Linked DNA regions of Homo sapiens: region 2 is linked to region 1. The links come from fine-mapping of genetic effects on gene expression. A gene starts in region 1. The other region holds a variant in brackets. All regions are shown on one strand. Distances are from middle to middle.

The links. PIP is the estimated chance that this variant, and not a neighbour inherited with it, causes the effect.
Region 2: its variant is the best candidate, but not a certain one, in a credible set for the expression of DNAJA2-DT in spleen (GTEx, PIP 0.90).

What each region holds. Positions count from the first base shown.
Region 1 is chr16:46,965,776-46,981,443 of GRCh38, reverse strand. It overlaps DNAJA2-DT (DNAJA2 divergent transcript), which reads right to left and starts at 7,672. Exons shown (of 2, transcript NR_186372.1): 1 at 7,319-7,672; 2 at 2,461-2,839. DNAJA2 (DnaJ heat shock protein family (Hsp40) member A2) reads left to right here and starts at 7,770. Exons shown (of 9, transcript NM_005880.4): 1 at 7,770-7,949; 2 at 9,489-9,548; 3 at 9,872-10,095; 4 at 13,280-13,360; 5 at 13,798-13,931. The coding sequence starts at 7,872. RefSeq lists enhancers at 7,359-7,448, 7,509-7,578, 15,543-15,668 and silencers at 8,009-8,058, 8,089-8,168, 8,319-8,368, 8,399-8,468, 8,819-8,898.
Region 2 is chr16:47,040,252-47,055,919 of GRCh38, reverse strand. No RefSeq gene overlaps it. Among named protein-coding and RNA genes, the nearest start is that of DNAJA2-DT, 74 kb to the right of the region's middle. RefSeq lists a silencer at 2,936-3,136 and enhancers at 8,846-8,895, 8,906-8,985. The variant T/C (reference allele first, on the strand shown) is at 6,222.

The DNA of each region.
Region 1 (15,668 bases):
TGGGGTTTCACTGTGTTGGCCAGGCTGGTCTTGAACTCCTGACCTCAGGTGATCAGCCTCCTTGGCCTCCCAAAGTGCTGGGATTACAGGCGTGAGCCACCACACCCGGACAAAAAAGAGGGAAATTTGGTCATTTGTAACAAAAGAATTGAACCTGGAGAACATTATGCTAAGTGAAATAAGCCAGGCACAGAAAGACAAATACCACATGATCTTGCTTACATATGGGATCTAAAAATCTTATGGAAGTATAGTTGTGGTTATCAGAGGCTGTGAGGAGAGGAGGAATGAGGAGATGTTGACCAAAGTGTACACTTTCAGTTTGACAGGAAGATAATGTTTTAAGATCTGTTGCACAACATGGTAACCGTAGTCAACAATAATGTATTGTATATTTTAAAATTGCTAAAAGAACAGATTTTAAATGTTCTCACTACAAAAAAAATAAGTATGTAAGGTGATGGATATGTCAGTTTGGTATAATCATTCCACAATGTATATTATACATACATTAAAACATTGGACCGGGCACAGTGGCTCACACCTGTATCCCAGCACTTTGGGAGGCCGAAGTGGGCAAATCACCTGAGGTCTGGAGTTCAAGACCAGCCTGGCCAACATGGTGAAACCCCATCTCTACTAAAAAATTACAAAAATCAGCCAGGCATGGTGGCAGGTGCCTGTAATCCCCACTACTTGGGAGGCTGAGGCAGGAGAATCGCTTGAGCCCGGGAGGTGGAGGTTGCAGTGAGCCGAGACCACACCATTCCACTCCAGCATGGGCGACAAGAGCGAAACTCTGTCTCATAAAAAAAAAAAAAACAAAACAAAAAACCGTACGAGTTTGAGACCAGCCTGGGCAACAGAGCAAGACCCTGTCTCTACAAAAAATAAAAATATTAGCCAAGTGTGAGTTGGCACACAACTCAGGAGGTTGAGGTGGGAGGACTGCTTGAGCTAAGGAGTTTGAGGCTGCAGTGAGCTTTGATCTTGCCACTGTACTCCAGCCTGAGTGATACAGTGAGACCTTGTCTCAAAAATAAATTTAATTTAAAAAATATTTCCTTGAATGTTAATAAATTAACATGAACTTTTATTTTCACCCTGCCCTCATTTCTGCCCAACATCTAATTCTATCAGTTCAAAGGTGAAAATATATCCAGAAGCCGATTCCTCACCAACTCAACATCTTCTATCTTGGCCCAAGTCACCTCTCACCTAGGTTTTATTACAATAGGTTCTCAACACAGCTAACAGAATGATGTGTTTAAAATGCACTTATGTCTCTCCTCTAATCAAAATCCTTTAATAGCATAGCCAGGAGTGGTGGCTAACACATGTAATCCCAGCATTTTGTGGGGCTGAAGCAGGCGGATCACTTTGAGCTTAGGAGTTTCGAGACCAGCCTGGGCAACACGGCAAAACCCTGTCTCTACAAAAAATATAAAAATTAGCCAGGCATTGGTGGTACATGCCTATAGTCCCAGCTACTCAAGAGGCTGAGGCTGGAGAATCACTTGAGCCCAGGAAGTGGAGGGTGCAATGAGTGGAGATGGCGCCATTGCACTTCAGTCTGGGTGACAGAGCAAGACTCTATCTCAAAAAAAAAAAAACAAAAAACAAAAAAACCAAAACCCTTTAACAGCTTCCCAGCTCACTCAGAGTAAACATCAAAGTCTTTATAGTGGACCTGATTGAGTCCCCGACAACCTCTCTGATGTGAGCTCTTTCCAAGATCTCCCTACCTTGCTGCTACCCAGTCATACTGGCCTCCTTCCTCTAACAAACCAGGCATGCTCTGCCTTAGGGCCTTTGCAGGCCCACTGCCTCAGCAATTGTTTTCTCACATATCCTCAAGGCCCTGCTTCCTCTAGATCACTGTTCAAATGTCACCTTCCTCAAACACCTTAAATAAAAATTGTTCCCAACCCCAATACTCTCGTTTTCTCTACAGCACATAATACCATCTGATATGCTATGTATTTACTTATTTACTGCCTGCCTTCCCCACTAGATGTACATTCTGTAAAGGCAGCGATTTTGTTTCGTTTATGGCTGTCCCCTATCCTACCAAACAGTGCCTGCCACATAGGAGGGTCCACAACACATATTTGTTGAATGAATGAATCTATAGATAAGTGAAAAAAACTCAGATTCAGATTCTCGCACTCAATTAACACAGAAGACTTCTGTGACCAAATATGTGGGGATTTCTCCCCACCAACAAGCAAGCAATCAATTATACAGTAGACACCAGGTAGGTGACCTCCAACTCAATTCTGACACTATCTACTTGGTAGCATCAGATCCCACAGGTTGAGGGCTCAGTCGCCTCACTTCTGATACCAATAGCAAGCCCCAGGTTGTTTCACCTGTGTCTCTGACCAGCTGAATAGAAATTAGGGTTCCCATGAACCCTTCCTTGGGTTTGATTAATTTTGCTACAGTGGCTCACAGGACTCTGGGAAACACATTTACCAATTTATTATAAGGAATGTTACAAAGGATACAGATGGAGGGATGCACAGAGCAAGGTATGAGGGAAGGGGCTCAGAGCTTTTATGCCCAGGTGCCCCACCCTCCAGGAACCTCCACATGTTCAGCTATCCAGGAACTCCAACTCTGTCTTCTTGGGCCTTTTATGGAGACTTTACTGGACAGGCATAATTGACAACCATGTAAAAATGTGACTGGACAAAAAGGTATGATCTAATATTAACAGACTGAGTGGGGAAACCCAGCAAGGCCTGTCTGCTTAGATTCCTCATGGCCTCTCTGTGCAGCACTCCCTTCTTGAGGATATGGAACAGGACCCCTTCAGAAATGGAAGTCTCATGACCTACAATCAGACAAGATAGGTCAGATAATTCCTTCTCTTCTCATAATTAAAAATATATTTTTTTAAAGATAGGGTCTCACTCTGTCACCCAGGATGGAGGGCAGTGGCACAATCATAGTTCACTGTAACTTTCAACTCTCGGGCTCAAGTGATTCTCCCACCTGAGCCTCTCAAATAGCTAGGATGACAGGTGCACAACACCCAGCTAATTTTTTCTTTCTTCTTTTTTTTAGAGATAAGATCTTGCGGGCCGGGCATAGTGGCTCACACCTGTAATCTTAGCACTTTGGGAGGCCGAGGCAGGCAGATCACTTGAGGTCAGGAGTTCGAGACCAGCCTGGCCAACATGGTGAAACCCCATCTCTACTAGAAATACAAAAAATTTGCCCAGCATGGTGGCAAACACCTGTAGTTCCAGCTACTCGGGAGGCTGAGGCAGGATAATCACTTGAACCTGGGAGGCAGAGATTGCAGTGAGCCAAGATCGTGCCACTGCACTCCAGCCTGGGTGACAGAGTGAGATTCCGTCTCAAAAAAAAAAAAAAAAAACAACTCGCTATGTTGCCCAGGCTGGTCTCAAATTATCCTACCACCTCGGCCTCTTGAAGTGCTGGGATTACAGGTATGAGCCACCACTCCCCAGCCCCAGCTAATTTTAAAAAATTTTTGTAGAGACGGGTCTTGCTATGTTGTCCAGGCTAATCGAATTTTTTTTTTGAGATGGAGTCTCGCTCTGTTGCCCAAGCTGGAGTGCAGTGGTGCGATCTCCGCTCACTGCAAGCTTGGCCTCCCGGGTTCACGCCATTCTCCTGCCCCAGCCTCCCAAGTAGCTGGGACTACAGGTGCCCACCACCACGCCCGGCTAATTTTTTGTATTTCTAGTAGAGACGGGGTTTCACCGTGTTAGCCAGGATGGTCTCGATCTCCTGACCTCGTGATCCACCCACCTTGGCCTCCCAAAGTGCTGGGATTACGCGCATAAGCCACCACGCCTGGCCTTTATGTATATTATGTATATATTATATATATATTACAGTGGTAATGAGGTGTGTGTATATATATACACATATATGTGGAAAACATATATATTCATATTCATATCTCATATTATCACAATAGACATATCTTCTCCACTATTTTTCCCACACTAATTGTTAGATGGCTAAATTTATTGGGTCAATTTCTCTGCTTACTATACCACTGCAATTATATAAGCAAACTGAACCTTTGGAAAATGCTAATTAATAAGGCAGGGTTTGACACGACTGGGTTTGAAAGGCCAGCAGTGGGGCTAGAAATACCTACCACATACAACTGTGCTGCCCCATCACTGAATAATCTACTTTAAGCACTGAAAGAAATTCAGAGATTATTCAGTGATCCAAGTCCCACAATTTTTTCTTTCCAGAGTACCAACAATCATCAAATTATGTGGTCCTGACACCCTCATAACAAGAACCATCAGTACCTTCTTCTGTATCCCCCCAAAATATTTTAACCTGCATCACTTACTCTATACATTCAAACCTAGTTAAAGCAGAAAGCAAAACTATTTTCTGACTGCCTCAATGATATATCTGGAGTTGTCTAAGTAATGGATTACACAGTTCCCAATTACTTGTGAACAGTATCAATGGTCTTCAAAAATACTACAGTTCCTATACCCCCCGTCCCAGTCCATATCCACCTCCTCTCCATCCCAACCCTTCACAGTTACACAAGCATACTAAATCAAAGCAAAGGAATTGAACACCAATATAAGCCTGGCAGAAATCTGAAATCACTGCCGCCTCAAACTTTAGATCACTGCAGCGCTCAGGTGTACTGTGACTCAGCATTTTACAGTGCCTGAGACATGAAATGAGATAAAGGTCCTTTTCCCTTCACAGCATTGGCTAAACATGAAGCCAAAATAAATATGCTACCTCAAAACAGTTAGTGGCTGGAACATTACAGTGCTCACACTGACACAGGTTTATCTCAGTCTGTGATCCTTGGGAGGAGACCCTGTGTCAGTTTAAGCACACAAAGTTCTTCTGAAATAACTCGAGCTATAAAATTAGCAAATTATGCTGACTACAATTAATACCCAGAAATGGAGAAAATATTGCAAAGAAATGAAAATGAAATTCAAAAATAGTTACTGTGGTTACTGGTCTAGTCAGGTAAAAAACTAAAATAAAATAACAAGAACAAAAGAGGGAATTTACCCAGCTACTCTTCATTACAATATCAGAAGCTAAAATGGCATCAAGAGAGAATTTTTTCCTCTTGCAAAAAAAAAAACTGAGTAAAACTGAAACAAATAGGAAACTCCAGCCCTTTTAAACTGTTCATGGGCAGAAGGAAAATAAGATAAAACAATATGAAACAAATAAGATAAATTAATATGAAGGTTGCAACAAAGACAGATTTTCAGTTCATATTCTTACGTGGAGCAGGAACTAACAGAGAAATGAGACGAGAGAAAATGATAACTGACAAGCAAGGAGATTTGGGAAGATGAGGTCATGAAAAGGGACGGAGGGGCATTCCCCATAGGTAATGGAAGAAGTCAGGGAATCCCAGTAGAAAAGCCAGAAATTTAAATGAGCAAAGACAACGTAAGCATATGGGCCAAGAACAATAGTTTATACTTAATTTCTTTTAGCTTCTTAGTAATTTTTTAAATTTTAATTATTTATTATTATTTTGAGACAGGGTCTCACTCTGTCACCCAGGCTGGAGTGCAGTGGTGTGATCTTGGCTCACTGCAACCCCCACCTCCTGGGCTCAAGGGATTCTCCCACCTCAGCCTCCCGAGTAGCTGGGACTACAGGCGTGCGCAACCACCCCCAGCTAATTTTTGTGTTTTTAATAGAGACGGGGTCTTGCCATGTTGACCAGGCTGGTCTCGAACTCCTGACCTCAAGTGATCAGGACTTGAGGCAGGAGTGATCCCGCCTCAGCCTCCCAAAGTTCTGGGATTACAGGCCACTGCGCCCAGCCCTAAGTAATAGAAATGTATAACTCTTTTAAACCAATGATATAAAAAATAACAAGCCCCATCTTACACCTGAGGAAACCTCAGAAAAGTTAAGTAACTTGCTGAAGGTCACATTGTTCCTAAATGGCAGAGTCAGACTACCAACCTACACAGTCTAACCTCGCCATAACTTTACACCGTCTCTTACGAACATCTCAAAATGTGAAAAGTAGAGAATTGGATTTTACAGCCGTGCATGAGGATGACGTCAGCATTTACACGGCAATGGCGGTTGGCAGAGGCAGTGGCTCAGGCCTGCAATCCCAGCACTTTGGGAGGCCAAGGTGGGTGGATGATTTGAGATCAGGAGTTCGAGACCAGCCTGGTCAACATGGTGAAGCTCCACCTCTACTAAAAATACAAAAATTAGCCGGGCATGGTGGTGGGCGCCTGTAATCCCAGCTACTCGAGAGGCTGAGGTGGGAGAATCACTTGAAGCCGGGAGGTGGAGGTTGCAGCGAGCTGAGATGGCGCCACTGCACTCCAGCCTGAGCGACATAACGAGACGCTGTTTCAAGTAAAAAAAAAAAAAAAAAAAAAAAAACAAAAGAGTTCGAGATCCTACCACAAAAGGTACAAACGAAGGGTGGTGGGAACTCGAATGAGATAGCAGTGTTCACCAGTGCCCAGTAAAGGAAGACTTCACAGAGGGAGCAGGATTTCAGATGGGATTTGAGGAAAAGGGTTTAAGGACTATTAATGACTTATCACTGATTACTCTTAGGGTTTTCAAGCTAAATTTCAGAGTCCTTGTCATGGAATTCAGGCCCTCCACAACTAGGTCAAAGGGAACGCCAAGGAAGAAACATTATCCTGAGTGAGATGCTTATGCTGAAGTCTTTGCTATCAGTTCAGGTTCCAAGGGATCAGAAAACCTTACTTTTCTGTCTCCATAAACCGTAAATGGGTTGAAGGCAGGCACTTTTGTAACACTCCTCTCCCCGGACCAGGCCTCTGTACATCATAGCACTTGGTAGATGCACAGCATACTTTCTGAGCGAAACTAAAACGAATGTAAATCAAGTCACCTGGTGGCCAGACTTGCCTTACACCATCTAAACCTCTGGTGTTAGCTAATTTTAAAGCTATCAAGTAAGAGGCTTAAACACGTGGTCCAGATGCAACATGTGGACCTTGGTTTGGACCCGGATGCCACAAACCAATTGTAAAAGGACATGAGATCATCTGAAAAACCTAAATATGGACTGGGAATTAGATTAAGGAATTGTTAATTTCATTAGATGAGATTACATCGTTATGCCTTTAAAAGTTGTCTCTTAGATATTAAATATATACACTTAGGGTATTTATGAATGAAACGGTTTCCCTTAAAACACTAGAAATGTATGGTGGAGCCAATGAAACAGGTAAAAGGTAGCTAACTGCACTATGGGGAGTAATATACTGCTTCTGCTAAATGTTTCAGAATTCTCATAATATAAAACACAACATACACACACACGCGCCCCCCAGTTTTTTTCATCGTAAGCCCCGAGGGAGCCAGACCCAGAGGGTCCACCGACGTCCCGGATTCTAATAACGACATCTGCGCGCCAGGCGGGCCTCCTGCGGGAGCCGGGGCCCATTTTCTTTCGAAGCTAACGAAGCTGCTGCGCAGGCCTGTTAATTCCCTCAGCAGCCAGTGCGAGGTTAAACACGCGACCTCGCAACCATGGCTTTTGAGAGGAAGCTGAATTCCTGGGGTGCGCCGTGCACAGTTCTTCATTTCCTACGTTGGCCCTGCCCAGCCGCCTGGACCTGGAGGAAAACAGAGAACCTGGCCCACTCTTCAATACTTCGACCCCAGTGGCCGCGCCTCGGGCGCTCGGGGGCGGGCTCTGCACAGCGACGTCACGGCGCACCGTGCGCTGGGTCAAAGTTCAGCCCCGCCCCCGCTTCCCCCTCGCTGTCTCCCTCGGCCTGTGCCGCCGCCGACGCCGCTTGTGGGCCCGACTCCGCTCTGTCTGCTTCGCCACCTTCTCCCCGAGCACTGCCCGGCCGGCCGCCATGGCTAACGTGGCTGACACGAAGCTGTACGACATCCTGGGCGTCCCGCCCGGCGCCAGCGAGAACGAGCTGAAGAAGGTATCTGGGAGCGGGCCGGGCGGGTGTGAGGGGCGCGGGGCCTGCGCGGCCAGGGATGTCTTCTTCAGCCAGGCCGCGCTACTGGGCTGCCCGCGAGCCGGCGCCGGCCGTGACTGGCCCGGGCTGGGAGTCGGCGGCGGCGGCGGGACCGGCCTCGCCGCGAGCCGCGCACTCCGGCCTCGGCTGACCTTGGGGCCGCCGGCCCCGCCCGCCCGCAGATGCAGCAAATAAAACTCACTCCTGCGCAAACACGATGGGAGCCCTTCCTTCCTCCCTCCTTGAACGAGCGCCGGGGGCTGGTATCCCCCGGGAGGCAGCAGCTCGCCCGGTCCTTCGCGTCGAGGTCACCACCCCGGAAAAACAGGTTGGACCGAGGTGCTCAGCGCATCCCGGCCCCGAGAGAGAAGCTGTCCGCCCCGCGGCCGTCGGCCCCGGGTCTGGTGCTCCGCGGGGAGGAACGGCGGGGAGGTCGAGGCCGCCCCCACAGAGCGCCTCGGGCGGATGGGGTTGTTTCCTGGGTTCCGCGGCCGCCGGCTGCGGGAGCTCCTCCCTCTCTGCGTCCCTCGCCCATTGACCCGGAGGTAGCTGGGTCTGTGTTTGGATGCATTGTTCTTTGGGCAGGTAATGCTAATGTCCTGTACCTGCTTAGGAATAAGCCGTGGTCCCAGCCAAACGCCTGAGTGTACAGTAAACATAAATAGAAGGCCTTATTATTGCTATTTGCAATGCTGCGATATCTTTCATCTCAGGATTTCAAAGCACACGAGGCATTTAAGCCCCACAGCATCCTCACCAGGCTAAGAGCATCCAGATTTGTAAGCCGAGAAAAATGAGAATGCTCCTTAGGCAGTGAGAAGAGTACAGTGGACTTCCTGTTACCTTACCGGAAATGCTAGTCTGTATTATATAATTCACGAGCCTCCGTGAATGAAGATTTAAGTGCTTTAGGACCCAAACACCTCGTTGAGAGTGTGTGCAACTTCTCTACCACCGAAGTTGCCACCACGACCCCAGTTAACCACCACGTGCAAATAAAACACCAAAAGACGCTAACTAGGACCACCTTTACTTTTTCATGATGTTACAGTTAGAAGGAAGGCGTGAGCCATCGGGAGCAGGAATTGTGACTTTAGCTTGATTTATAGTAATGTTTTGCAGTCCGCAAAGCTTAACAGTCATTTATCTCGAATTTATTAGGGTCGTCTTGGTCTGGTTACTTGGCCATCAAAGACACTTGACAATAGGGAAAATATGGATAATGTTTGAACGTTTTGTTTTTCCCTGTGGCATTGCTTCATTGTTTTATCTGGTTTTCACGTCACTGTAACCTGTTTTCAAGTATAGCTGCTGTCTACTTGGTTATATTACATTAGTAAACAGTATCGCGAGAAAGTGCCGAAGAATCCCTACGAATAGAAAATATTTTTGAAAGGTTATAACTCTAGAACATTACTTCTCAGAAAAGTGGATATTAAGTTATTACAAAACTTTTAACTGGTGTTTAGTTATAACCTTTTTTGTTTTTATCCATTTTCAAAGGCATACAGAAAGTTAGCCAAGGAATATCATCCTGATAAGAATCCAAATGCAGGAGACAAAGTAAGTTATTTGCACCTTTTTTATTCCGGGGGTTTTAGCTTTAACTTAAATTGCCCTCCTTGAAAAAGAGGAATGTTGCAGGAAAAAAATCCAACTATGCCCACACAGCCACATTTTCATAATGTCAAGAGTATTTTAGTTTTAGAATAAGAGTACTACCATTCTGAGGAGCGGTGGGTGGTAAATAGAACCAGAATCAAGTCAAAGGTAACTTGTCCCTTTTTTTTTTTTTTTAGAATTAAATGGATTCTGGATTCCTGTAGCTTCTCCCCACTCTTCTACTTGAAAATGCAATTATTTTTATTTTTACCTTTTCTTTATAGTTTAAAGAAATAAGTTTTGCATATGAAGTACTATCAAATCCTGAGAAGCGTGAGTTATATGACAGATACGGAGAGCAAGGTCTTCGGGAAGGCAGCGGCGGAGGTGGTGGCATGGATGATATTTTCTCTCACATTTTTGGTGGGGGATTGTTCGGCTTCATGGGCAATCAGAGTAGAAGTCGAAATGGCAGAAGAAGAGGAGAGGACATGATGCATCCACTCAAGTGAATATCTTGTTTTGTTGTTTTAAAAAATTAAGTACTTTTTGTCAAGTGGGATAATGACTCAGTAGATGAAAAATCTCATAGAGTGTTCTGTCCTTCATTAGAAAAACTTCCATTTGCCTTGTCTTCTTTTGGTGACTAAATTGAATTTGATTATCTGAATGTTTCTATTTCGCTGTAGCTCTTAAAAGGACAGTCGATATTTTTTAATGAGAGGAAGGTGGTTTTATATGGTTCTGAGGCTGCTTGTTATTATAGGACTTAAAATTTCAACTGTGAAGATCATTTTCTCTCTCTCTCTTTTTTTTTTTTTGAGACCGAGTTTCGCTCTTGTCCAGGATGGAGTGCAGTGGCACAATCTCAGCTCACTGCAACCTCTGCCTCCTGGGTTCAAGCGATTCTCCTGCCTCAGCCTCCCAAGTAGCTGGGATTACAGGCATATGCCAACACACCCGGCTAATTTTGTATTTTTAGAAGAGATGGGGTTTCTCCATGTTGGTCATGCTGGTCTCGAACTCCCAACCTCAGGTGATCTGCCTGCCTCGGCCTCCCAAAGTGCTGGGATTACAGGCGTGAGCCACTGTGCCCGACCTTTTTTTTTTTTTTTTTTTTTTTTTTGAAATGGAGTCCCTGTCGCCCGGGTTGGAGTGCAGTGGCACCATCTAGGCTCACTGCATCCCCCTCCTCTCAGGTTCAAGAAGTTCTCCTGCCTCAGCCCCCCAAGTAGCTGGGATTACAGGCACCCGCACCATGCCCGGCTAATTTTTGTATTTTTTAGTAGAGACAGGGTTTCGCCATGTTGGCCAAGCTGGTCTTGAACTCAAGTGATCTTCCTGCCTCATCCTCCCAAAGTGCTGGGATTACAGGCATAAGCCACTGCGCCCAGCCTATTTTCTTTGAAGTATATGAATCTTCCAAGTTACCTTTTATTTAAAAACTAAAAATGAGTGACTGTCTGCCTACTTTGTGTACATGTTAGAGTCACTCATTACTTGATCCTCAGTGTGAACTCTTCTGAGTTGGTTTCCATGGAGCTTGCTGGCTTCCAGCCTGACCTTAACCTGCCAACACATGAATGGTGCCTGACCTTGGTCTTAGACTGTGAATCCACAAGCCCTCTCCAGTATGAAAATAGCTGTTTCACTTTGCAAAATCTGGGAGGTCTTTTTTCCCATTCTTTTTTTCATGGACCAATAAATGATTTTATTAGCAAATGTCAGTGGCCGAAGTTCAGGTACTTATTTAAAATATTTCATAATATCCTAGTTTATACACTTGAGTAAATTAGAGGAAGTCATGTTATCTGTTAACTTTGAGTCTCATTGAATCCTTAAATTTGTTTTTTAAAAGAATTTACCCTCAGAAATTAACATTTGGATACCATTCCAATGGTAATATTTGTGCAGTGCAGGTTAATTCGTTTATATTTTTCTTTAATATAGAAATGGTCTAAAAAGAAAATAGGGTCAAAAGAGTGCTGTCTGTACTTTATAGTTCTTCATGTTTAAAAAAAAGTTATGCTATATAGTGAAAGTTTTCTGCTGTTTTAACATTTCAGATTTTCCTGTTATTACAAATACTATGTTTATAATACTGCATTCTATGATTTATTTACCTTTTATATAGGGTATTCCCAGGTTTTTTCTCTGTAATAGATACTGCTGCTATGAGTATCTTTATGTAGAGCTTTGTTTCTCCTTGGCAGAGATTCCCAGGCAGGCATGAGTGTTTTGAGGCTGATAAATACAACTAAATTGCCTTGCAGAGGGATTGTGCCAGTTTAGGCCCCACTAGTGGAGAGTGCCAGCCTTGCCAAACCATTACCTGCATTTTTCCTTCCTTGGCCTTCTTTGTTGAGATGTGTATTTTTCTCTGGCTTAGGATACTGGTTGTGCATACCAATTGTAATTTAATATGTAGGGGAAGAAAGCCGATTTTCTTTAAATGATTTGTTATGCAGAGTATACAAGATGCAACAAGCGTTTTGGTCTAAAGCTCAGCTGTTGATAGGTCATTATTTGACAGTGTTGTTGGTAATGTTTTGTCCATACGTGTGGTATTCTTATCCTGCCTACAACAGTTTTAAGTTTCTGAGAATAACAATTTTAAGAAAGTTTGAATATCACAAAATAGTATAGGTGCTTTGTAAAATACTTTAAACTATTTTTTTGTTCCTCTAACTCCCAGGATTTTAAAGCAGATCATTACGGGATGACCATTACTAATCTGAAATCTGAAATGCTCCAAAATATGAAACTTTTTGAGCACCATCATGATGCCACAAGTAGAAAACTCCACACATAAGTACTTGTCTCACTCTGTCCCCCAGGCTGGAGTGCAGTGGTACGATCTCAGCTCACTGCAGCCTCAATCTCCAGGGCTTAAGCAATTCCCCTGCCTCAGCCTCCTGGGTAGCTGGGACTTCAGACATGCCACTACACCTGGCTAATTATTTTTTATTTTTTGGTAAAGATGAGGTCTCTCTAAGTTGCTCAGGCTGGTCTTGAACTCTGGGCTCAAGCAATCCTCCCTCCTCAGTCTCCCGAAGTGCTGGGATTATAGGCATGAGCCACTGCACCTGGCATGAAAAACTATTCTATCCCTCCTTTCTGTCATACTATAGGTAGGGCCACTTTTATTTTTTTTAAGACATATGCCATCTAAGTGACTCCCTTAAGCCGAAATATAACTTTGTAGCCTTTCTAAATTGTCCATGGAGGAAACAGGGACTCTGGAGCCAGATACCTATGTGATCTTGGGCAAGTTACTTGACTGTTCTGTGCCTCAGTTTTATCACATAAAATGGGAATAATAATTGTACCTCTTCTGAAGGGTTTTTATTAGGAGTTAGGTGGAGGGCTTATGCCTCAGAACAGAAGGTTGTGATATTTGAGTTTGCGAAGTCATCAGCTTTATCAGAAATTCCACCACAGCAAATTGTTGGCCTGATGCTATAGGCTCTGGCTTTGGGTATCATATATGTACTGTCTGTAGTCATAAAATATTTCTGTTAATTTGAGCCATAATATAAGCCTCAGTTTAATTGATTTAATGTGAGATTATGAGGTGTTTTTGAATTCTGTTTTAAAAGTTGATAACGAATTTGCTGTATCAGCTGTTACTTATATCTTGTATTTGACAAAATGTGGCAAAATTTGATTGAAGCCGATTCTTTTCTTTCCAGAGTATCTTTAGAAGATCTGTATAATGGCAAGACAACCAAACTACAACTTAGCAAGAATGTGCTCTGTAGTGCATGCAGTGGGTAAGTGTGTCTTCTGGTTTATTGGGTACATTTTGTCTGTTCTTTTAAGTATCACACTGAATGTCTGTACCACGTAAAAATTGTTATAAGTTAAAACTTACGGCTGGGTGCGGTGGCTCACACCTGAAATCCCAGCACTTTGGGAGGCCGAGTCGGGTGGATCACCTGAGGTAGGAGAATCGCTTGAACCCGAGAGGTGAAGGTTGCAGTGAACCAAGATTGCGCCACTGCACTCCAGCCTGGGTGACAGAGTGAGACTCCATCTCAATAAATAAGTAAAAAAATCTTAGCAGAATGTTTTCTGATACTTCTGGAAGTCAATTTAAATACAAGTTATTGGGGTTGAAGATGAAGGTAAAAGCACAATTTCTGTGTGTCATAGCTTATTGGAGTGGTTTGTGGACAAAAACCTAATGCATAACTTGTGCTTGCTTTAGCCAAGGCGGAAAGTCTGGAGCTGTCCAAAAGTGTAGTGCTTGTCGAGGTCGAGGTGTGCGCATCATGATCAGACAGCTGGCTCCAGGGATGGTACAACAGATGCAGTCTGTGTGCTCTGATTGTAATGGAGAAGGTATGTGTGCCAGTACTTCTCTGCTTTTATGTTGGAATGGATTGGGAATGCAGATATTGGAGAGGTTTACAATTTTTTATTTCAAAGGGTATTTGTATACATCTTATTAAAGAAAAAGGAGGCCGGGTGCGTTAGCTCATTCCTATAATTCCAGCACTTTGGGAGACAGAGGTGGATTGCTCGAGCCCAGGAGTTTGAGGCCAGCTTGGGCAATATAGGGAGACCTCATTACTATAGGAAAAAAAAGTGTGGAAAAATATGTAATGAGGGGCTCAGGGCATGTCTGTGGTCCCAGCTGCGTGGGAGGCTGAGGCGGGAGGATTGCTTGAGCCCAGGAGTTCGAGGGAGCAGTGATCTGTGATCATACCAGTGCACTTCAGCCAGGGTGACAGAACAAGACCCTGTTGCAAAAAATAAAAGATAAAAGTGTGAAAGTAATTACTCCATTATGCCTAAGCCCAGTGAACATAGAGAAACAGTAGATTTGTATTGTGTTAGTGAAAGGTGACTCTTTTTAATTCAGAAAAGAGGAGCAAGGTGATTATTTGTCCCTTTGCTATTTCCTTCTTTATCAAATATAACCTTTTATTTACTCTCTCTGTAGGAATGACCACCATAGGAGGACTATCTCCTTTATCACATAGAACCTTTTAAACTACAAAGGGACAAATAATCAAATAATAAATAACTAAACAAGTAGTTGTTTAGTTATTCTGATAAGTGGAAGATTTCACTGTAACCTTTAGTTAGCTTTTCAGAATTGATCTTGAGATTGAAGCTGTCCTTACAGAAGTAAATAATTTAGTCTTTGTGGGCCAAATAGTTTTTGTCACAACTACTCATCTCTGACCTTTTAGTGCTTTTATGGCCACAGACACATGGATATGGCTGTGTTCTGATTAAAATTTTAATTATAAAAACACATAGCTCCTCCCACCCCTGCCATTCTAGAGCAGTGCTATCCAATAGAATTTTTTTCTGTGATGATGGAAATGTTCTGTATCTGCAGTGTCCAGTACAGTAGCCATTAATCACCTGTGACTACTGCATATTTCACATGTGGCTAGTGTGACTGGAGAACTATTTTAAATTTGAATTAATTTAAACATAAACAAGTAGCTACAGGTTGATAGTGGCTACCATATTTGACAGTATAGTTCAATAGCATCCTTTTCCAAATTGCTATTGGAAGTGATGAGATAATTATGAGAAGTTACATATGATATTTCCTTCCTGGAGAGTCTTGGCATTTTACTTTATTTTTTTAAATTATTATTATTTTTGGAGATAGGGTCTTGCTGTCGCCTGGGCTGGAGTGCAGTGGCACACTCTCGGCTCACCGCAGCCTCCACCGCCCACGCTGAAGCAATCCTTCCACCTCAGCCCCTCGCCCCACAATTAGCTGAGACCATAGGTGCTTGCCACCACGCCCAGCTAATTTTTGTATTTCTTGTAGAGATGGGGTTTTGCCACGTTGCCCAGGCTGGTCTCGAACTCCTGGGTTCAAGTAATTCTCCTGCCCCAGCCTCCCAAAGGGCTGGGATTACAGGTGTTAGCCACCACTCTTGGCCTGCTTTTATTTTATTATAATTGCTAACTCCCACTATCAAGAAACCAAAGTTAACTGAAATCTTTCTCATGTACCATTACATTTTTCTTTTTTCTTTTTTTTTTTTTTTTGTGAGACGGAGTCTTGCTCTGTTGCCCAGGCTAGAGTGCAGTTGCGTGATCTCAGCT
Region 2 (15,668 bases), 74 kb before region 1:
GGATGGACGAAGGGCACAAAAGCCAGTGCAACCTGCCTTACCTGGAGATACTGATGGCAGCAGGAAGGCAGAGCGGTGGGCTGCACACTCCATGGAGCCGGTGGGAGCCCCATCCCTTCTGAGCTGGGGCAGTAGCTCCCTGGGTGCCGCTGCAGCTGCCCAAACCGTGGCTGCAGACCCAGACCTCCTGCTCTACGAAGCAGGCAAACGCCCCGCCCTCCTGGGCAGGGTTACAGCCACCCAAACTGCGGCTGTGGATCCAAGACTCGCTGTGCTCTTGAAGGGGGCCCGGGAGCAGGCAGGATCTGCCCTTGCGGGTGCAGCTGCAGTCCCCCAAACTGTGGCTGCAGACCTGGGCCTCCCGCTTCACAGAGCAGGCCGGAGCCGGGGACAAGCGGGAGTCCTGCCCCTTCCAGGTTGGTGGGACAGGAGCTCCTGGATGCAGCTGCGGCCACCCTCCCAGGCACAGGCCCAGTGCATCTCTGCAGCCTGCGTCCTCAAGGCGGCTGGGGAAGACCGCCCAGCCTCCTGTCCCTGCTCCTGCTGCCTGGTTTCTCTCCCGTCCTGGCGCCCACTCCGATACTGGAGCAGGGCTTAGGGCCGAGCCCCAGGGGTCATGAATGGCAGCAGGAGGCAGACAGATTCCTGGGTGGAAGCGGGGGACCCCAGTAAGGCCCCACCTTCAGGCCAGAGAGGGCCTGAAGGCTGGGGGCTGGGCTGCCAGTCCTGCGGACCTGAGTGCGGACTCATGGTGCCTCTTCCAGGCCCACCCATGGCCACCCATGGACCAGTGGGCATGCACTTCCTCCCCTCTGAGCGACATAAAAGCCCTGGGCTCAGCCAGAGCAAGAGAGAGGATGGCCAGAGCAGGGCAGAGAAGGTGAAGGACAGAGAGAGGACAGGAAGACCAGCTACAGAGAGAGGCTATCCTTTCTGCTCAGAGCTTCAGAGACCTGCAGAGACGTGGGAATAACCAGCCTCCTGGAGAGGAGCTACCCTTTCCAGGGCCTCCTCTCTGCTGAGAGCTGAACTGGATGGGCAACCTGCCTACAGAGATGAGCTACCCACTGCGGATCTCCCGAGCTGTTTTAACACTAAATAAAGCTTCTCTTTGTCTTCTTCATCCTTCACTTGTCTGAGTACCTCATTTAGAACTCAGGTGAAGGCCCATGAGCCACAGAAGTTTCCAGGAAGAATATCAACATCCTCCTCAAAGATCCCTTAACAATATCAGTAATCTTAGGACTCCCTTTCCCCAGAAGGGACAGCCCAAGAATGAAAGACACCCAAAGGGAAGGAGAGCCAAAGCCCTCGCACCCCAGAATACCACAGCGGTGGCCCCAGCAGCATTACTGGCGTCTGCTCCCCACCAGGCCTGGCCATGGCTTCCTTGGTAGCCTGCATCCTTGCAAGCAAATGATCTGCCTGCAGTGCACAGAAAGGAAGCCCGGATGAGCGAGGGCATGGCTTTCCTTCCCTCCCAACCGGTAAGGAAGGCCAGGAGAGACCTGTACTGTTCACCTCCATGTTCCTTGTGCCAAGAGAGTGTGTTTTGAAGTGAATTAAGGTGCCCTCGAAGACTAGAAAACAGGGAGGGATGGGCATAGTGGCTCACACCTGTAATCTTAAGGTTTTGGGAGGCCAAGGCAGGAGGATTGCTTGAGCCCAGAAGTTTGAGACCTGCCTGGGCAGCATGGTAAAACCCCGTGCCTACAAAAAAATATATATAAATTAGCTAGGCATGGAGGCTCATTCCTGTAGTCCCAGCTACCTAGGAAGCTGAGGCGGGATGATTGCTTGAGCCCAAGAGGTCAAGGCCATGTGGCTATGATCATGCCATTGCACTTTAGCCTGGGCGACAGAGCAAAACCCCGCCTCAAGAAAATTAAAGAAAAGAAAAAGAAAACAGAGAGAAAGGTCTCTTTCCAAGAGTTAAACTATAAAATCAGCTCAGGGCAAAGCAGAACCATGCGCTGTCACACTAGAGAAACAGCAAGGCCAACCATGACCTATTATGAGCACCAAAAACGTGTCTAAAGACGGCATGTGTTCCAGCCAGGTATGGTGGCTCGTGCCTGTAATCCCAGTACTTTGGGAAGCCAAGGCAGGTGGATCACCTGAGGTCAAGAGTTTGAGACCAGCCTGGCCAACATGGTGAAACCCTGTCACTGCTAAAAATACCAAAAAGTTAGTGGTGCGTGGTGGGATCCAAGCTACTCGGGAGGCTGAAGCAGGAAAATTGCTTGAACCCAGGAGGTGGAGGTTGCAGTGAGCCAAGATCGTGGCCACTGCACTCCAGCCTGGGCAATGCAGCGAGACTCTGTCTCAAAAAAATAAATAAATAAAAATAAAGGCAGCATGTGTCTGTGAGAAGGGGGTGGCCAGCTCTGCAAGCAGAGGAGAGGGCAACCAGTGCCAGAGACAGACCAGAACAGTGTCCAGCAGAGCAAGTGGCCCTGTCTCAGTTCATTAAAAGAAGAAATGCTTGACCTAACGGGTTCCGGAGGAAGGCAGGACCACACTGGGAGAAGACCACCACTTCCCAGGGCACAAGTCACTGGAATCCCTAACCGACCTCCGTCACGTGTGCCCACCATGAACCCAGGCCTGCCATGTCATTGGCCAGCAAGGAAAGAGGGCTGGTCAGGCCATACAGATCTCTGGTCTACCCGGCAGTATTCATTTTCACGGGTGATCTCTCGGTGAGTAGATATTCTGCCTCTGTCTCTGAGGGTTCTGGAGGTGTGCATTGGCCTTCCTGAGTCTGAGATGCTGACCAGGTAGAGACTGTGAGCCTGGGGCTGAGGGTTGGACCAGGGACTGTGGTGAACCCACCAGGGGAAAAACTGCTATCTGGATTCAGCCTCTCCCCTCAGTGTCTGCGAGTACTTTCCACCAGAAACTTCTACACAAAGCGGGTGCTGGGTATTGGATGGATAAGTGGACAGACAGACACACAGGCAAACAGAAGTGTTACTGCAAGTTGAAGCCTCCTGTCTGGCCCCTAAAGCTGAGCTTTTTCCACCATGTGTGCCATCTCTTCAGCCTTTTCCTCTCTCCCTGCTAGGACTGGCTCAAGGCCAGGACCTGGGGCTGCTCACAAAGTTCTTGCTGGCTGTTTTTTTTGTTTTGTTTTGTTTTGTTTTGTTTTGTTTTGTTTTGTTTTTTCTAGAGACAGTGTCTTGCTATGTTGCCCAGAGTGCAATGGCACAATCACAGCTCACTATAGCCTCCAACTCCTGGGCTCAAGCGATCTTCCCACCTCACCCTCCAGAGTAGCTGGGATGACAGGCATGTGCTGTCCCACAACTGGCTAACATTTTTTTTTTTTTTTGAGACGGAGTCTCACTCTGTTGACCAGGCTGGAGTGCAGTGGCGCGATCTCCGCTCACTGCAAGCTCCACCTCCCAGGTTCATGCCATTCTACTGCCTCAGCCTCCCAAGTAGCTGGAACTAAAGGCACCCACCACCACACCCGGCTAATTTTTTGTATTTTTAATAGAGACGGGGGTTTCACCACATTAGCCAGGATGGTCTCGATCTCCTGACCTCATGATCTGCCGGCCTAGGCCTCCCAAAGTATTGAGGTTACAGGCGTGAGCCACCGTGCCTGGCCAACATTTTTATTTTTTTGTGGAGATGGGTTCTTGCTACATTGCCCAGACTGGTCTTGGACTCCTGGGTTCAAGCGATTCTCCCACCTCAGCCTCCCAAAATGTTGGGATTACAGGTGTAAGCCACCATGCCCGGCCTCTTGCTAACCATTTAAGCTGGAGTCCAGCAGCAGGGACAGATGCAGTAAGCTTCATACAGTGGGGAAAGAGTCCCTGTCCTCACTGGGGAGGGTCCTGGCCTTACCCCTTTCCAGCTGTAGTACTTACCACTTAGAATGGGATAGAAGGTGGGGAGTGGTGGCTCACACATATAATCCCAGCACTTTGGGAGGCCGAGGCAGGCAGATCACGAGGTCAGGAGATCGAGACCATCCTGGCTACTGCGGTGAAACCCCGTCTCTACTAAAAATACAAAAAATTAGCCCGGTGTGGTGGCAGGTGCGTGTAGTCCCAGCTACTCAGGAGGCTGAGGCAGGAGAATGGCGTGAACCCAGGAGGCAGAGGTTGCAGTGAGCCGAGATCACGCCACTGCACTCCAGCCCGGACAACAGAGTGAGACTCCATCTCAAAAAAAAAAAAAAGGATAGAGTCGGGGACAAATTTCCGAGGGCAGTGTCCAACTGAAGGCCACATTCCACAGGCCACCCTTTTCTGGTGTCGTCCGTGGCTTCGTGACACCAGGAGATAGACGTTTTGTAGAAGATGATTTGTTTTTTTTTTTAGAAACAGTGTGAAGTCTCTACCAAGCTCTGGGCATCAGCTGGTCACATGTCGAGGAGAGGCACACAGTGCGGGCCACTCCTACCCATGGCAGTTCTCAGCATGTGCCTCGATGACCTCCACCCAGAGAAAAGCCTGGCCCAGGACCAGACAGGAGAAAATCAAATAGTGCAGTGCATGCTCCAGGGGCCTGCCCATCATGGAGTTCCAGGCCCTTCCTCATCCTCCTTCATCGTTCATGGGACTGCTCTAGCAGGGCAGAAGGAGCTGGGCCTTTGAAGTTCAGAGACCTCGGTTCGAGCCCAAGCCAGGGCTGTTGGGTGCAGTTGTGTGCCTTGTGCCCCACGTCTGTCTCGCAGGGTTCACCTGCCAGCTGTGCACCTACCTGCAGGGCTGGGTTTCCCCGAAGGTGCCAGATGGGCTACTGGGGGTCCATCAAGGCCCTGCCGTGACTCGCCTATGTGAGTTTGGGAAAGTCATGGCATCTTCACGCCTTGGTTTTCTCGCCTGTGACCTAGGAGTATGGTGATATTTGTTCCACCCTCCTTGCAGGTGTGTATGTGGTTCAGCCACATGTAAGACTTTGTGAACCACAGAGACCTTGGCCTGTGGACAGAAGGCACAACTCCCAGGCTGTCCTCGTAGTTGCGGCCTAAGCTCTCCACATGTCAGAGCCCGCTCCTGGCCTTCTCCTGGGACCTGGCCGTCCTCTAGGACTCTTTCCCCCTTTGTCATCTGCTCCTCCTTCATCCAGTTATTTTGCCTTCAAGACCTCTTCTCAGTTGCTGATACATTTTCTTTATTGATTTTTAAAACCATTATTGTAAAGATAACCAATGGTCTTGATTTGAACAAAAATTGAAGAGGTCTTGGAGGCAGAAGAGGAAAAGGAGAGGTTTCCCTTCCCATCAGCCACATCCTCCAGATGGCAGCTGGGGCCTCTCCATCCTACATCTTCAGCCCCGCATCCTAGAAGCCAGCTCCTTGTTCTCCCGAACAGCCCAGGACTCGACACACAGACCTGCCCAAGTGCCCCGCCACCCCACTCACGGAAATGAGCTTGCACGTACACCCTTAAGCAAGTAACGTCAACCTCACTGAAATGTTCATAGGGAAGGAAAGAGTTCACGGTGCACACCCCTCACCAAATAACATCCACCCTGTCCCTTGGTCATCTGTGGGCAGCAAGGTCAATACCCCCACCTGCTGGGGGAGGGAGGGAGGCTGCCACCCACATCCCACTTCCAAAGGGCTGGTTTAGGGGTGGAGTGAGGGTGGGGGCTCCCAGCTGGTGGTGCCTTCCAGAGAAGGAGCTGACTGGGGTGGGTTGACAGCTTTTTCTGATGTGTCAATAAATCACAAATCACTGCCTGAATCACCAGAACCAACTGTCACTTTATAAATTCCAATCCACAGAAACCCATTGCCCCTTCCCCAGCGCATTCCCTTCCTAAGGCAGCTGCCAAACATAAAGCCCTGGTTCTGGGCATCCCACATGCCTCTGCGAGTCTTTGGCAGCTCGAGTGGGTGCTGGGGTGGGCGTGGGGGAGAGAGTGCGGTGCTTTCTGGGTCTTTAGAGGAGATCAACCAGTGGCCAGGAGGTCTGGCTTCTGGTCCCAGCTGAGTCCTGACTTACAGTGGGACCTTGGGCGAATCCCTTTCCCTCTGTTGGCCTGCTGCCTCTAACCAGCATTTACTGAGCTCACTGAGTGCTGCAATTGACTTGTAATATGTCTTTGAGTCCTAACAATCATTCCATAAGGCAGTTACTCGCTATTACTGTCGTCTTTTTTTGTGATGGATTTAGAAGCCTCAAACATGCAGAGGTTGAAGAACGCGCCTAAAGGTCCTAAGGCTAGCAGTGGGCAGAGCCGTGGTCTCCAACCA[T/C]AGCCCTGCATGCGCAGCTGCCCATGCACTGGGCTGGGGGATTCTTTGGCGCAGTGGGAGCCTGTAACCTTTCTGCAAGGGATTTGGGGGATGGAGAGGAGACACAAATCATGGAAAGCACACTTTGGATTCCTGATCACTTAGGGAGGCCCTCAGGGTGAGTGGGGAGAAGGCAGGGGATGTCTCCACCCTGATTCCTGGAGTGAGAGCCTCCAGGGATTCCAAGTCCTGCCCAGGGCAAAGGCCAGGGGCCACTTCATGGACACCTTTGCCTCTCGAACCCCGCCAACCACAAGGTGACCATGGACTCCTCTCCCTCAAAAAATCAAGGCCCCACATGGCTGGCTCGGGCAGTCCTGCCCAGAACACAGGGGTGGCATGAATAAGCCCTGTGCCACACTGGTGCTGTGATTTGGGGGTTCAGAGAGGGTGTAGTCTCAGTACTATTTGCCCTTCACTGGGGCTCCTCTGCAGCGGGCATTGAGAACCAGGGGCCTTCCCTGGCTGCCGCAATCCCTGCAGAGACCCACAAGGAGGAGAGTCCCGGGAGGCCCTGGAAGCCTTGGTGGAGAGGGGACAAGACTCCAGTCCCTGCCACGTCATGCTTCCCAGGGACCCCAGCCAAGGTCCTAGGTTACAACTCATGGTTTCAAGAGACAGAGACCTGAATCCAACCAACTCAAGTAAAGGGGGCTTATTCAGAGGATACCGGGGCTGGTCACCACTGGGGTGCCTCAGGGACAACTGGAATAAAGGACTCAAACACCACAGGATGCTGCCTGTCCCTGCGCTCCCCATCTCTGAAGCTGCCTTCCTGCTGCTGCCTGGCCTCCTGTGCAGGGGAAGAGCAGGGCTGCCATGGCTCCAGCCATCGCCAGAGGGATATTGCCTCCCTTGCCTTAGCACCAGCCTAACGCATCCCAGACAGAGGCTGTGGTTGGCCAAACAGAGACCAGTAGCCCATTCCTGGCCCAATCAGCTTTGGCAAGGGGACAAGGCCATATGTCAGAAGCAGACCCGCCAGGCTTACCTGCATCCAGATCGATCCCAGAGAAGGAGACGCTCTGGGGACCAGGAAGCCACTCCAACTGGGGTCTGTTGGAGCCTCTCTGAGCCTTCATTTCCTCACCAGTGAATTGAAGTGATATTTGGCCAGCTCAGTGGCTCACGACTATAATCCCAGTGCTCTGGGGAGCAGAGGAAGGAGGATTGCTTGAGGCCAAGAGTTTGAGACAAGCCTGGCAACATAGTGAGATTCCATCTCCACAAAAATACAAAAAATAATTAGTTGGGCATGTGGTGCCGCTTGTAGTCCCAGCTACTCAGGAGGTTGCGGTGCAAGAATCGCTTGAACCCAGGAGTTTGAGGCTGCAGTGAGCCTTGATTGCAGCACTGCGCTCCAGCCTGGGTGACAGAGCAAGACACTGTCTCAAAACAAAACAAAACAAAGCAAAAAGGTGATAGGTACCTTCTTCATGGGCAACTGTGTGTTATTGATGAGATGGTGCATGCAGAAAGAGTGTTTGGTGGCTGAAAGGACTTGACAAAGATTAGCTTTGGATTATTGCAGCTGTTGATGGTGTTGCTAATCGAAGGACTTGCTCTGCCAAGGACTCCAGCAAGGACTGAGGTTCCTGCTATGCAGACTGTGGGTAGAGGCTTAGTGCTCCCGAGCCCTGCTTCTCCCATGGTCCCCCAGTGGCCTCCTGAGTGGGCCATGGCCCTGAGCTCAGAGGGCACCAGGACCCTCCCCAGGCCGGCTGAAGAGGCAGATTCCAGAACAGCCTCCTCCCCAGCTGGGAACACCTCCCCAGATCTCAGTTCCCTTGCCTATCAGATGGAGGACATCAGATCTGCTTTCCTCTTCTGCAGTGGTGAGGAACAAGCAAGAAGACATGAGTGGAAGGAAAAACTGATGTGTCTTATTAGCAGTTTATTGTTGTTATTAATTATCAGCTCCAGAAAACTGCTGGGATTACAAGCCTGTGTTTTCTCACATCTCTCTAAAGGCCATTACCACGAGGGGAGCCAGCAGACTTAATTTGTGAATGCTAGCTACTAAATTATGCAAAACCAGATCTGCTAATGAATTTCTCCCATGGTGGCGGCTGGTGCTGAGGAGTTTGCAGGTACACTTCTTGGAGAGAGGGGTGGAAAGGGGCCTGGGTATTCACTGTTCCACCTCCACACTCAGAACTCACCTGCCTTCACCCACCCCTGGGACAAAGGCTGCCTAAAATGTGAATTCCCAGCTGGGAGAGGCATCAAGATGGCTGAATAGATTATTTGGTCATTCAAAGTGGTTTTTGTTTTTTTCAGTTTGAATAGACTCAAATAGCTTGTCTCAGAAGGAAGAAAAAGGCTGCTGTTGAATTGAATGTAAGCCTGCAAATGACTTCTCTTTCTCTCTCTCTGCTCTATTTCCGAAAGCTATTTATAGATTAGAAGCCTGTCATTGCAAATTAGGGACATTTTCTTCCTCCCCCATCCTCTACTACTCCAGCCCCAGCTCCTTGAGGGCGGTGGTCACTGGGCAAGCCCAGCATCAGCACTGTGCAACGGGCAGCCTGTGCACATCCCCTTCTGAAGACAGCTGCCCCCTGCTTCCACTCCTGACTGTGAGCTCCTCTAGGAGAGGGGCTGGGTCCGCATGTCCAGGACCAGGCTAAGGCTGGACACAGGGTAGGCCTCATCACATCTGTGAGATGGGTGCTTCAAGGACAAGCTCAGAAACCTGCCCTGACTTATCAAGGCCAGAGAAGTTGATTCATCAGAAGGCTCCAGGCAGCTCACAGATGAAAAAGTGGGCTGTGTGGACTTTCCCAGCCTGGAGGAGGGCAGGAGTCAGGCCAGCCTGGAAACCTGGCGGCAGGAGCAGGACTTTCAGGGTCCAAATCCTCTCCAGGTGTTCTATGCCCAGTGGTTCAAATCCCACGGGGCCACACTCACTATGTAATCTCGGACACGTTTCTTAACCTCTCTGGGATTGATTTATCCTGTGTAATCGGGATCACAAAGCCTTCCTCCCCATCTCCCCATACCCAGGTGTAAGCCTGCTGCAGTCATGCTGTTCTTTGAAAAAAAAAAAAATTTTTTGAGACAGAGTCTCACTCTGTCACCCAGGCTAGAGTGCAGTGGCGTGCTCTCAGCTCACTGCAACCTCTGCCTCCCAGGTTCAAGTGAGACTCATGCCTCAACCTCCCGACTAGCTGGGATCACAGGCATGTGCCACCATGCCCCGCTAATTTTTGTATTTTTATTAGAGACGGGGTTTCACCATGCTGGCCAGGCTGGTCTCTAACACCTAACCTCAAGTGATCCACGATCCACCTGCCTTGGCCTCCCAAAGTCCTGGGATTACATGCGTGAGCCACCGCTCCCGGCCTATTCTTGAAATTTAAATGAAACTGGCAGGGACCTCAGATCCCTTGTCAATGGAAAACTGATATCCCTGTGCCCCAAGATTTCTGCGAATCCTTGGAGATTACATCCAGCCTCACTCAAATTTTTTTTTGCATTTCTGTTGAGCAACTAGATGATCCAGGCCAACCACAGTGGTTCATGCCTGTAATCCCAGCACTTTGGGATGCCAAGGCAGGTGAATCATTTGAGCCTAGGAGTTCAAGACCAGCCTGAGCAACATGGTGAAACACCTTCTCTACAAAAAGTACAAAACTTAGCTAGGCATGGTGGCATGCACCTGCAGTCACAGGTACTAGGGAGGCTGAGGTAGGAGGATCACCAGAACCTGGGGAGGTTGAGGCTGCAGTGAGCTGTGATCATGCCACTGCACTCCAGCAGACAGAGTGGGTGACAGAGTGAAGCCCTGAAGGAAAAAAAAGAAAGAGAAAGAGAGAAAGAAAGAGGTAGGGAGAAAGAGAGAGAGAGAGAGATAAAAGAGGTGGGGGGGGGAGAGAGAGAGAGAAATAAGAGAAGAAGGAGAGGAGAGGAGAGGAGGGGAGGGGAGGGGAGGGGAGAGGAAAGGGAAATTTACTTCCTAAATGGGCACCCTTCTTTAGAAGTGCCAACCACTAAAATAACAATTTTTTCACACTCAGTAAATGCAGATCAGATAAGTGCTTTGAAAACCACAAAGTACGGCCAGCATAGGAAGGTTATTAAACCCGTTCCTCTTAGTCCCATTACGGACAGCACTTCCTGGAAGGCATCTAAATGCTCTCTGCTCCAGCACTGTTGGCCTTGTAAGAGAACAGGAGCCTGTGGAATTTTCTGAAACAATCCTTTCAGGCTCCAAAGAACCCACTCCCATTATCTTGAATTAAATCCATTCCAACCATTGCCTTCCACTTTTTAAATTTTTGTTGGAAAATAATTTACATACAGAAAAGTACATCATTAACATTCACACCCGGTTCAAGACACAGAGCACACTCAGCTCCCAGAAACTTCCCTTCCAGTCACTCGCTGTCTCCAAAGCTGACCTCTAACGGCCGACATGCATGCCTGCTTCTGTATCTGTGAATGGAGTCCTACCATAGATGCTTTGCACTCAGCTTCTCCCACCCCACAAGACATTTGCAGGATTCAATCACGTGGTCGTATGTAGTTTAGATAATCATTCTCATTGTTTCATCAACGTCTCTCCTGTGGAAATAATTGTTTTTCATCTACTGTTGATGAGCATTTGGGTAGTTTCCAGTCTGGCTATCGTGACTAGCACTGCCTTGGACATTCTAGTCCATGTTTCTTTGGCACACATAGGGCTGTGTTTCTGTTGGGTATCTGCCTAGGAGTACAATTTTTGGTTCGTAGGGTAGTCATGTATTCTTTTTTTTTTTTTTTTTTTGAGACAGAATCTTGCTCTGTCACCCAGGCTCACCGCAGCCTTGAAATCATGGGCCTTGAAATCATGGGTGTCAGTGATCCTCTCCTCTTAGCCTCCTAAGTAGCTGGAACCACAGGCATGTGCTAACATGCCTGGCTAATTTTTTATTTTTATTTTTATTTTTTTGTAGAGATGAGGTCTCACTATGTTGCCCAGGCTGGTCTCAAACTCCTGAGCTAAAGCAATCCTTCTGTGTTGGCCTCGCAAAGTGCTAGGATTACAGATGTGAGCCACTAAGCCTGGCTGTGTTAATCTTTAATAGAACAAGTGCCAAATGGTTTTCATCCCATCTTTTCTTTCTTTCATGTTTTATTTATTTATTTTTGAGACAGGGTCTTGTTCTGTTGCCCAGCCTGAAGTGCAGTGGTGCAATCATGACTCACTGCAGCCTCGGCCTCCTAGGATCAACTGATCCTCCCATCTCAGCCTCCCGAGTAGCTGAGATTACAAGTGCACATCAGCATGCCTGGCTAATTTTTGTATTTTTTTTTTGTAGAAACAGGGTTTCACTATGTTGTCCAGACTAGTCTCGAACTCCTGGCCTCAATCCTTCCTGGCCTCAGCCTCCCAAAGTGCTGGGATTATAGGTGTGAGCCACCGTGCCCGGCCCGGCTTTACCCTTTCTTTAGAGTGTTTACTCTCAGATCACCTTCTGCAGGGAAGCGATGTTAAGTGGCTTGTTCCAGGCCACATGCCCAGCAGTGGTAGAGCTGAGATTTGAGCTTATGCAGGCTCCCTCTCAGAGTCTGTACTATTAATTGCCAGGCTACACTGCCTCCCTGTTTCTGAGAAGAGTCTAATGTACCATATAAAGTTGTGTGCAGTGAAAACCTCCTGAAAAGGAGCCCTGAGCTTAGGGCTCCTTAGGGGTTGTGTGGAATATTTTATTTTTATTTATTTATTTATTTATTTTTGAGAGTGTCTCGCTCTGTCACGCGGGCTGAAGTGCAGTGGCGCCATCTGGGCTCACTGCAACCTCTGCCTCCCAGGTTCAAGTGATTCTCGTGCCTCAGCCTCCTGAGTAGCTGGGATTAACAGGCATGTACCACCACACCCAGCTAATTTTAGTATTTTTAGTAGAGACAGGGTTTTGCCATGTTGCCCAGGCTGGTCTCAACTCCTGGAGCAATCTATCTGCCTTGGCCTCCCAAAGTGCTGGGATTACAGGCCTGAGCTGCCGTGCCCAGCCGGGGAGCAGAATATTTTATAATGGGCAGTGGGCACATCTGCTTTTCGCTCCAGGAGGAAACATTAACACTCACCTCTAAGGTTGTTTGTTGTACAAACATCCTAGAAAGATCACCTAGAACCAAGGCACCCTCTGCTCACGAGATGTGCAGACATGTGAGGCCCATGGAGGATTGTCTCCTAACAGCTGCCCCAGCCTGGACTTTGGGCTGCAGCCACATCTAACATCTGCTGCCTCCATCACCAGCAGAGATGCCGCGGCTGCCTACAGAGCCAGAGGGAAGGGAGACTGTCGTGCCATCTGGAGGCAGCCCATGAGCAGCTATGGGGCCAGTCGCCACCAGGCCTGTGGGCCCTGGAAAGACTATGGGCTTTGGCAGGGCGCGGTGGCTCATGCCTGTAATCCCAGCACTTTAAGAGGCCAAGGGCAGATCACCTGAGGTCAAAAGTTCAAGACCAGCTTCGCCAGCATGGTGAAACCCCATCTCTACTAAAAATACAAAAATTAGCTGGGTGTGGTGGCACATGCCTGTAATCCCAGCTACTTGGGAGGCTGAGGCAGAAGAATTGCTTGAACCTAGCAGGTGGAGGTTGCAGTGAACAGAGATCGCGCCACTGCACTCCAGCCTGGGCAACAGAGCGAGACTCTGTTTCAGAAAAAAAAAAAAAAAAACAAGACTGTGGGTTCTGAGGGCACCAGCTGCTCCCATCCAGGGCCACACCCAGGCCTCCAGGAAATAGCCATTGTCCCCTCTGCCCTCTGCCTCCCCCTGAGGTATCCTCTGCCTCTTCTGGACCTTCTCTTTCTCGCTTTATTCTCTCTTCATTGCTTTGCCTTTCCTGCTGGCTTTTTGCAGATCTCTCTCTCTCTCTTCCTCTCTTGATGATTTTATCTCTGGGGCTGTATGCAAACTTTAGAAAACAAACTAAACACATGCACACCACGCATATGAGAAAAGAAGAAAGCGAGGATCACCCACAATCCCCCCACCCAGAAATAACCACAGTGAACATTTTGGTCAGCATCTCCCCAAAGGTTTCTCTTTTTTTTTTTTTTTTTTTTTTTTTTTGAGACAGAGTCTCGCTGTTGCCAGGGCTGGAATGCTGTGGCGCGATCTCGGCTCGCTGCAAGCTCCACCTCCTAGGTTCACGCCATTCTCCTGCCTCAGCTTCCTGAGTAGCTGGGACTACAGGCACCCACCACCATGCCCGGCTAATTTTTTGTATTTTTAGTAGAGACAGGGTTTCATCGTGTTGGTCAGGATGGTCTCGATCTCCTGACCTCGTGATCCGCCCACGTCAGCCTGCCAAAGTGCTGGGATTACAGGCGTGAGCCACTGCGCCCAGCCCAAAGGTTTCTCTATAGACATAGCCACATATGTCACATATCCACACATATCAACATACTCACCACAAAACTGGGATCCCATGTAGACAGAGCTCACGCTTCCTGAGCTACTCCGGAGAAGAGGAGGCCTGTGGAGGCCACAGGGCCGGGGAAGACTTTCTTCCCCTTGAGAAAGAAAATGAGAGAGAACTTGGGACCACTGCTAGCTGCATGGAGCCTTGATCTTCCAGGACACCAAACCAGCCTGTGTCCCCTCTCCCAGCTCATCCCTGCCAGCAGGGTCAGGGAGAAGGTTTAGCTGTGAGGGTCCTCGGGATAGCGACGGAGGCAGGACCACATCTGCTCCCCTCAGCCTTGAGCAGGCTTCCAGGAGGAGGTGAGACCTCCGTGCACATGGCAGGGTCTCCATGGATTGTGGAGCAGAAGACTGACGGGAGTGTGTGGGCGGGGTGGAGGGATACATGTCTGTATGAGTGTGACCACACACTCACACAGACCTCCATCTTCAGTCCAGCAACCACTGAGGGAGGGAGCGGTCCTGCCACAGCCGCACAGCCACTTTTCTTTTTTTTTTTTTTTTTGAGACAGAGTCTTGCTCTGTCGCCCAAGCTAGAGTGCAGTGGCACAGTCTCAGCTCACTGCAACCTCGCCCTCCCGAGTTCAAGCAATTCTTATGCCTCAGCCTCCCGAGTAGCTAGGACTACAGGTATGTACCACACCAGCTAATTTTTGTATTTTTTGATAGAGATGGGGTTTCACTATGTTGGCCAGGCTAGTCTCAAACTCCTGACCTCAAGTGATCCACTCACCTCGGCCTCCCAAAGTGCTGGGATTACAGGTGTGTGCCACCGCACCCAGCCTTAATTTTTGTATTTTTAGTAGAGATGGGGTTTCATCATGTTGGCCAAGCTGGTCTCGAACTCCTGTCCTCAAGTGATCTGCCCGCCTCAGCCTCTCAAAGTGCTGGGATTACAGGTGTGAGCCCACATGCCCAGCCCCCTTTCCTTGGACTCAAACCTACCCCAACTCCCATTCTTGGATGTGCCTTAATCCTCAATCCCACCCCAGGTTGAGCTGAGAGGGCAGCCTGAGGCTGGAGGGGCTGGGAAGGATTCATGGGTTTGGTGGGAAACATTTAGGTGGTTTATAAATTTTCACTATTACAAATAATGCGCTTCCAAGGTTTTCATTGTTTTATTTTATTTTACTTTACTTTATTTTTAGAGACAGGGTCTTGCTCTGTCACCCAGGCTGGAGTGCAGTGGTGCAATCATAGCTCACTGCAGCCTTGAACTATTGGGCTTAAGCCAACCTCCCACCTCAGCCTCTTGAACAGCTAGGACTATAGGTGCACACCACCATGCCGGGCTAATATTTTTTTAAATTTATTGTAGAGACGGGGGTCTAACTGTGTTGCCCAGGCCGGTCTCAAACTTCTGGACTCAAGTGATCCTTCTGCCTCAGCCTCCCAAAGTGCTGGGATTACAGGCATGAGCCACTGTGCCCAGCCTCCAAGATGTTTAAAGCACCATACTTGTTACAAGAAATTCAGACAATAACCAAGTTCATAGAATTACATCAGAAATTCTCCCTGAACCCACCCCGACTTCAGTTCCACTCTCCACAGAAAAGTGACCACTGAAAATAGGTTAGCATCCTCTTAGAGTTATTCTTGGACATAGACAAAAATATGAGCCCATATGAAATTGTGTTTTTTTTAATCACACACAGATACTTCTTTTTCTCACTCACTCAACAAGCCTTCATGGGCCTTTTCCAAGCCAGTGCGTAGAGAGCGGCCTCATCAATATGAAGGTTTGCTCTGAGAGGAGAACCAAGTCAGCCTAAGACGTTTTGGCCTTTCCACAAACATTTGCAAACACCTGCAATGCTGGGCAGGCTCTGGAGGCAGAGAGACCTGGGCTCAGAGCCCACCTCCACGCTCCACAGCCATGTGATCTTGAGGAGGTCACCCTCCTGCCTGAGTACCTACCTTGGGTGCTATTGTGAAGGTGAAGTAATAATCTGTATGGGAGGCTTGGCAGAGCATCCAGCTCAGAGAGGG